Regions from separate parts of the Homo sapiens genome. Here region 2 is linked to region 1. Evidence: fine-mapped expression QTL. A gene starts in region 1. The other region holds a variant in brackets. All regions are shown on one strand. Distances are from middle to middle.

The links.
Region 2: its variant is fine-mapped to the expression of CLTCL1 in neutrophils (BLUEPRINT, PIP 0.95).

Annotation. Positions count from the first base shown.
Region 1 is chr22:19,289,963-19,292,868 of GRCh38, reverse strand. CLTCL1 (clathrin heavy chain like 1) reads left to right here and starts at 1,150. Exons shown (of 33, transcript NM_007098.4): 1 at 1,150-1,269. The coding sequence starts at 1,228. It overlaps LOC105372859 (a long non-coding RNA gene), which reads right to left and starts at 922. Exons shown (of 6, transcript XR_938002.3): 1 at 539-922. RefSeq lists silencers at 1,032-1,271, 1,153-1,337 and an enhancer at 1,448-1,961.
Region 2 is chr22:19,181,889-19,184,753 of GRCh38, reverse strand. CLTCL1 (clathrin heavy chain like 1) reads left to right here. Exons shown (of 33, transcript NM_007098.4): 30 at 1,143-1,364. Among named protein-coding and RNA genes, the nearest start is that of SLC25A1, 4.6 kb to the right of the region's middle. The variant C/T (reference allele first, on the strand shown) is at 1,378.

The DNA of each region.
Region 1 (2,906 bases):
GCCTGTGCTGAATGCCAAGGGCTTCCCTTTCCTGACAGACATCTTTTATGCAGCTGAATCATCTGTATGCAAAACATCAGCCAACGGTGCCTCGGAAAAACAACTGGCTGCTGGGCAAACCAGGTGTGGGCTCCAGCTTCCACCTGCTACTACTGTCGTGCAGCCACGGGCACTCTGGGTGATCCTCACTGGCCTGGGGCTGGTCATCTGCTGCTAGATGACCTTCGCTGACTCTCTACATTGATATTCCGACACAGTGTTCTCTAGAAACCGCATGAGCCAGGAAAGGTGTTTCCTAAAGGAGCAGGGGCCGAGCCTCACGCCGAAACACGTCTGTAACACGTACAGTCACGCGTCCCATGCATCCATGCATTCTGAGACATGCGTCTCGGTTGTGGGATCATCACAAGGTAACTTACACAAACTCAGATGGCACAGCCACTACACAACTAGGCAGCTGATGCGGTCCGCTGCTGCTAGGCCGCAAACCCGCACCGCGTGTGAGGTGCGTTATTCCCCTGGCACGGTAATGACATACCTGTACGTGTATCTCCAAATACAGGAGAGGAAATGTCCTTAGCTAAGCCCTCACCAGAGGACAGGAAGTTTCCAGCTCCGTTATCATGTTATGGGACCACCGTCATATACACGGTCCTCCTCAGACCAAAAGGTCGTTCGTTATACGGCACATGTGGTTCTTCCAAGACCCTTTTCCATCTTTCTGTCACATCCGTGCCTGAGTAAAAAGTGGCCCTGAACTCAACCGTCCAGAGTTGGCGGCAGAACTAGCACCACTGGCCCGCTCCACATGTGGAAGGCGCTGGGCAAGGGCCGCCGCAGACCCCATCAGGATTAATCCCCCGAAAACCTTTCACTCGGGTAGCTGGCACACACCGCGTCAGGGCAGAGGGCGCGCGGGACTACTTTCCGCGGACCCTCGGAGCGGGCGGAGGGATCCGCGCAGGCGGGACGGGGCAGAGGCGGGGGCAGGGGCGGGGGCAGGGGCGGGGGCAGGGGCGGGGCAGAGGCGGGGCAGGGGCGGGGCAGGGGCGGGGGAAGGGGCGGGGAAAGGGGGTGCGGGCCGGGGCGCGGTCAGGGAGGAGGGCGGGGGCCAGGACCGGGAGCTCGGGGCACTGCGCCTGCGCCGTCGCCACCGGTCAGCCCGCGCGAGGGGTCGGCGTTCATTCCTGCCGCTGCCGCCGCCGCCGCCGAGGTCCCGCACCAGCCATGGCGCAGATCCTCCCTGTTCGCTTTCAGGAGCACTTCCAGGTGAGGCCCGGCGGGCTGGGGGGCTGCCCTGTCAGCCGCGCCTCCGCCGGGCCGGACTGCCAGGCTTGACCCCGCGCCCCCAGCCCCGCTGAGCCGCTGCCCAGCTGGCCGCGCCGATTTCCGACCTCCCACCTGGGCTGGGGCTGCGGCGTCCCGGGCGCGGCGGCCGCTCCTGAGGACCCGCTTGGGTGCCGTCGCCGAAGCCCGTTACCGGCGGGGCCGGCTGGGGAATGGTGGGGGTGGAAGCCAACGCCCCCTGGGACGCCCCGCTCAGTGCCCGCGAGGAGGCACACAAATTCCCGCTGCAGGCAGGGCAACCCAAGGGCCGCGCGGATCCCACAGCTCCACGCCCCTCCTTGGCGTCCTGCGGTCCTTATTCGCCCCTGAGTTTGCCTCTGTGATCGGTTTTCGTCCCCAGGGCGGCTTCGCCTGGGAGGACCGTGAACATGCGTGACCCAAGAGAAAAATTTCTCAGGGCCAAGCCTAAATAGGGCTTTTCAATGCAGTAACACCCCCAAAGCCTGCCTTTTTAATAAGGTCCCAGTTTGTTCTCCATTTGTTTGTGTTCAGAAACATAAGGACTGGCCCCCTGCTTTGAGCAAAGGCTCAGGTCGGGCGTCGTGCGGGCCGCTCGCGGGTCTGCCCGGGAGCGGTGCTGGTCCCCACGTTTACCCTGGGAGGTGCGGCAGAGGAGGGATAGCCAGCGGCTCCTCCCTGAGTGCTCTGTGTTAAATCATCACACTACCATTCGTTGCGATTCGCTTACTCTTTTCTAGATGAGGAAACCGAGTCTCAAAAGTGTTAAAGAACTCATCTTCATTCAATAAGAACAGGATTCAGACTCAAGTCTTTTTGACCACAAAGTAGTACATCGAGGAACGTGCTTGCTTGAAAGTTCCTATTTTCACAGTGCAGAGCACTGTTAGCCCTAGATGCAGACGGGAAAAGCCTTGGGAACTGTGTAGTGCAGTCCAGTCCCCTCATTCTGCAGACTGGAAACTTGATATCCAGGGGATCCTGCCAGGGTCACTTGGTTAGTGACACAGTGGAAGTTGTATGGAGGTGGGAGTGCCCTGACATCTGTCCGGGCTTCATTCTGCCACTAAGCTAAGCCAGCACCAGTCATGTTGAGGTAGCAAAATACTGCTGCTGCTCATAATAATGATGATGATGTAGTTATCATTTACTGAGCCGTTTCTCTTGCCACTCACTAGACTACTGTATTTTATAAATCTGGTTTAATTTAATCCTCATGATAACTGAGGCAGATAGTGATATCCTGTTTTCTACCATGGGTCACTGAGGTTAATATTCTAATTCCTTCAGCAAAAGTTACATGGCTAGTAAGTGACAAAGCTTGAGTTCTAACCCAGGTCTGATTCCAATGCCTGTGCTTAACCACTATCTAAATATGTTCTTTTCAAAGGGCAAGAAAGCAACAAGATATTTTAGGTGTCCATCAGAGTTTCTAATGTCCATCAGGATTTGTAATGTCCATCAGAGTTGATATGTTCCATTATCTGGAAAATGCTTGTGGCTTGTGGTGGGCAGCCACGTGAATGCAAGTCTGGTTTGTGGTCTCTAACACTGACTGGGTCTTTGAGGCTGCTGTGCATTCTGTAGAGCAAACACTGAGT
Region 2 (2,865 bases), 110 kb after region 1:
CTCTGGGAAGGCAGTGAGACAGTCCCCAAGGCCCACAGAGGAGGAACAGAGCAGGGCCCACTTTAGGCACATGTGGAAGACAAGTCAGCAAGGGTAGGCTGGGCCGGTGGAGGGCACGGCAGGGAGACAGATGAGCGGGCGTCACAGGTCCTCAAAGCGGAGACCCAAAGGCACCTGGAGCTCTCACCTGAGGGTCAGAATCCTGGTGCCTTTGTAGGAACAGTGTGGGTCAGGAGGCAGCGATCGATGAGCAGCATGCCAGCGGGGGAGACTTCTTTCCGGAGCCAGCTCAGCACATCGGGTCCATGCAGATGTGGGCACTGGGCGTCCTCAGGGGTCTCCCAAACGGAACTCAGAGGTGTGTGCTGCAGGCGATGGCAGGCATGCAGAGCTGGGACCGCCACAGGGTATCCCTGGAGAGCACAGGTCACAGTCAGTGGATCATGGCCAACTCCAGGTGGAGTGGCCCTGGGCAAGTGACTACATCTGGGTCTCAGGTTCCTGGTCTCTGAATGGGGTACTAATAGCCCCTGCCATAGAAGGAATCAGGTGATCCAGTGCCTGCTGTGGAGCTAGAAAATAGAGAATGGCCACAGAAAGTGCAGGCTTCTTCAGGACTGGTCAGGTGCAGGTGTTATTTTGTCAATGATATTGTCTTAGACAAATACATTTGCAAGGATGAAAATAGCAGTTAGGGGTTTTTGAGCCACTTGAAAGAAAAACACATTGCTGTTTCTAGAGCAGTAGCCGTACCCCTCCTAACTGCTCCCCTGGTGTCACACGCTCCATGGACCTGAGTGCAGCACCTCTGCAGCAGCCCCACAACCCCCAAACTCCCATCAGTGCCTTCCTCAGAGCAGCCTGTGCACGCCCTCTGCCCTCGGGGCTAGAGTTCCTGTCTCCCAGGGCACCTGCGCCTCCGTGAGCCACCTGTCCCCTCCAGAGCCTCCGGAGGTGGCATCTCCGTTTCACCAGTGGGCAGCAGGGCATAGGGAATGGCCCAGCCATGGGTCCAGGCTTGCTCCACAGCGCAGGAAGTCCTTGGTGGAGTCTAGTGCCACTCCCTGCCCTCCGGCCCAGCTGCTGCAGGCACAAAGCCTCTGCCTGCAGGATGCCCAAGCAAGCATTTGCCTTGGCTGCAGGATGCCATGCAGCATGCTGCAGAGTCGCGGGATGCTGAGCTGGCCCAGAAGTTGCTGCAGTGGTTCCTGGAGGAAGGCAAGAGGGAGTGCTTCGCAGCTTGTCTCTTCACCTGCTATGACCTGCTTCGCCCAGACATGGTGCTTGAGCTGGCCTGGAGGCACAACCTCGTGGACTTGGCCATGCCCTACTTCATCCAGGTGATGAGGGAGTACCTGAGCAAGGTAGGTGCCGGGC[C/T]GGCTGCAGCTCCCCGGCCCCTGTGTGGCATGACCCAACCCTGGCAGTGACTCTGGCCGCAGGTCTTAAGGGTGGGCCCCTTTGAGGCCAACCCAGATTCCCCAGCCAGCCCTGGCTGCCTTCAGGAGTGGCTGCTTTCCTTCATGCTGAAGTGGTTTTCTGCCCAACGTTAAGCCCCTCCAGAAAATCATCATGGGGAGTGCCCACTGGCAGCAGCCCTCCTGTAGACTCTGGCTGGGCAGCTGTCCCAATGTGCACACTGCTAGGAGCACAACAGGCGTGCTCATCCCCAGCCCTGGACTTCAACAAGGTGACAGTGAGGTGGCTGGCAATCCCAGCTCCCTGAGGAGCTCCCAGTGGCGTCTGGGGGTGCAGCTGTTAGCATACGGTTGGTGGTAGCTGCCTTTTGCTGAACACATAGTAGGAGTATTCACAGATCCACTGAATCCTTCTAACAGCTATAGGGAGGATGACTCTCTGCCTCATCGAAGTGACAGTACTTGATTGTAAAACTCTCCCTGGGTGTTGAAGTCCTAGGAGTCCCTGCTGGGATCTAGCTTTAGCCACTGTCCAGAGACCTGTGTCAGCAGTGTCATCTGGTACAGTTTGTTGTTTCTAACACTGGAAAAGCTACTTCCAGTAGCATCTACTTGCCTATCTAACCTCCTTCAAGCCAGATGGAGAGCCTCGGAAGGCACTCATGCTGAAGCATCACTCAGTGGAGCGAGGGAAGGGAGGGGCCTCCCAGGTGAGTGGGAGGTAGGAAGGAAACAGGAAGGCGGGCTCATGCTGCCAGCTTTAGCCTGGAGGGCTGCCTGCCGCCTGCAGAGCCTCCAGGGGGCTGCCCAGCCCCTGATAAAGGCCATCCCAGAGTCCATTCAAGGCCGTTGCCCTCCTGTAGGACAGTGTGACCCCATCCCATCTGCATAGCATGCCTGAGTGAGACTCCCTGATGACTCTCAAGGGTTGGGGAGGAAGGGACAGCCCTGGCTACGTGGCCTGAGATTCGTGGGCTGCCAGGGGACATGGACTGGTTGGATTGACAAGGGCCCTGGTTCCCCCACCACAGTGGATGGCAACTCCCTACAGGCGGCACGTGTGGTATGTGGTTTGTGGTATGCAGTGTGTGGTGTGCGGTGTCTGGTGCGTGCCTGTGGAAGCTGCTGTCACCATGATGAGCAGGTTTTCCCATCCCTCGGGTGTCTTTCCTGAAAGTAGTCTGTGTTCTGAGAACCAGCACAAGGAAAGAAAGTGCTTGAATCTCTTCCTGGCAGTAGAGGCCCGTGGGTTAGTGTCAGAGGAACTCAGGCTCACCAGGCCCTAGGGAGTGTCATTGCTGTGGGGGTCAAAGTGCTTGTGGGGATCCCCCAGGACTTTGAGGCGCACATTCCCTTTCTGTTGCGGATGATGGAGTTAGCAGCCACTATCACGTTGGTCCACACTGTGGCTGCACAGCCTTGGCCCAGGGTTCCCAGACTCCACTGGCCC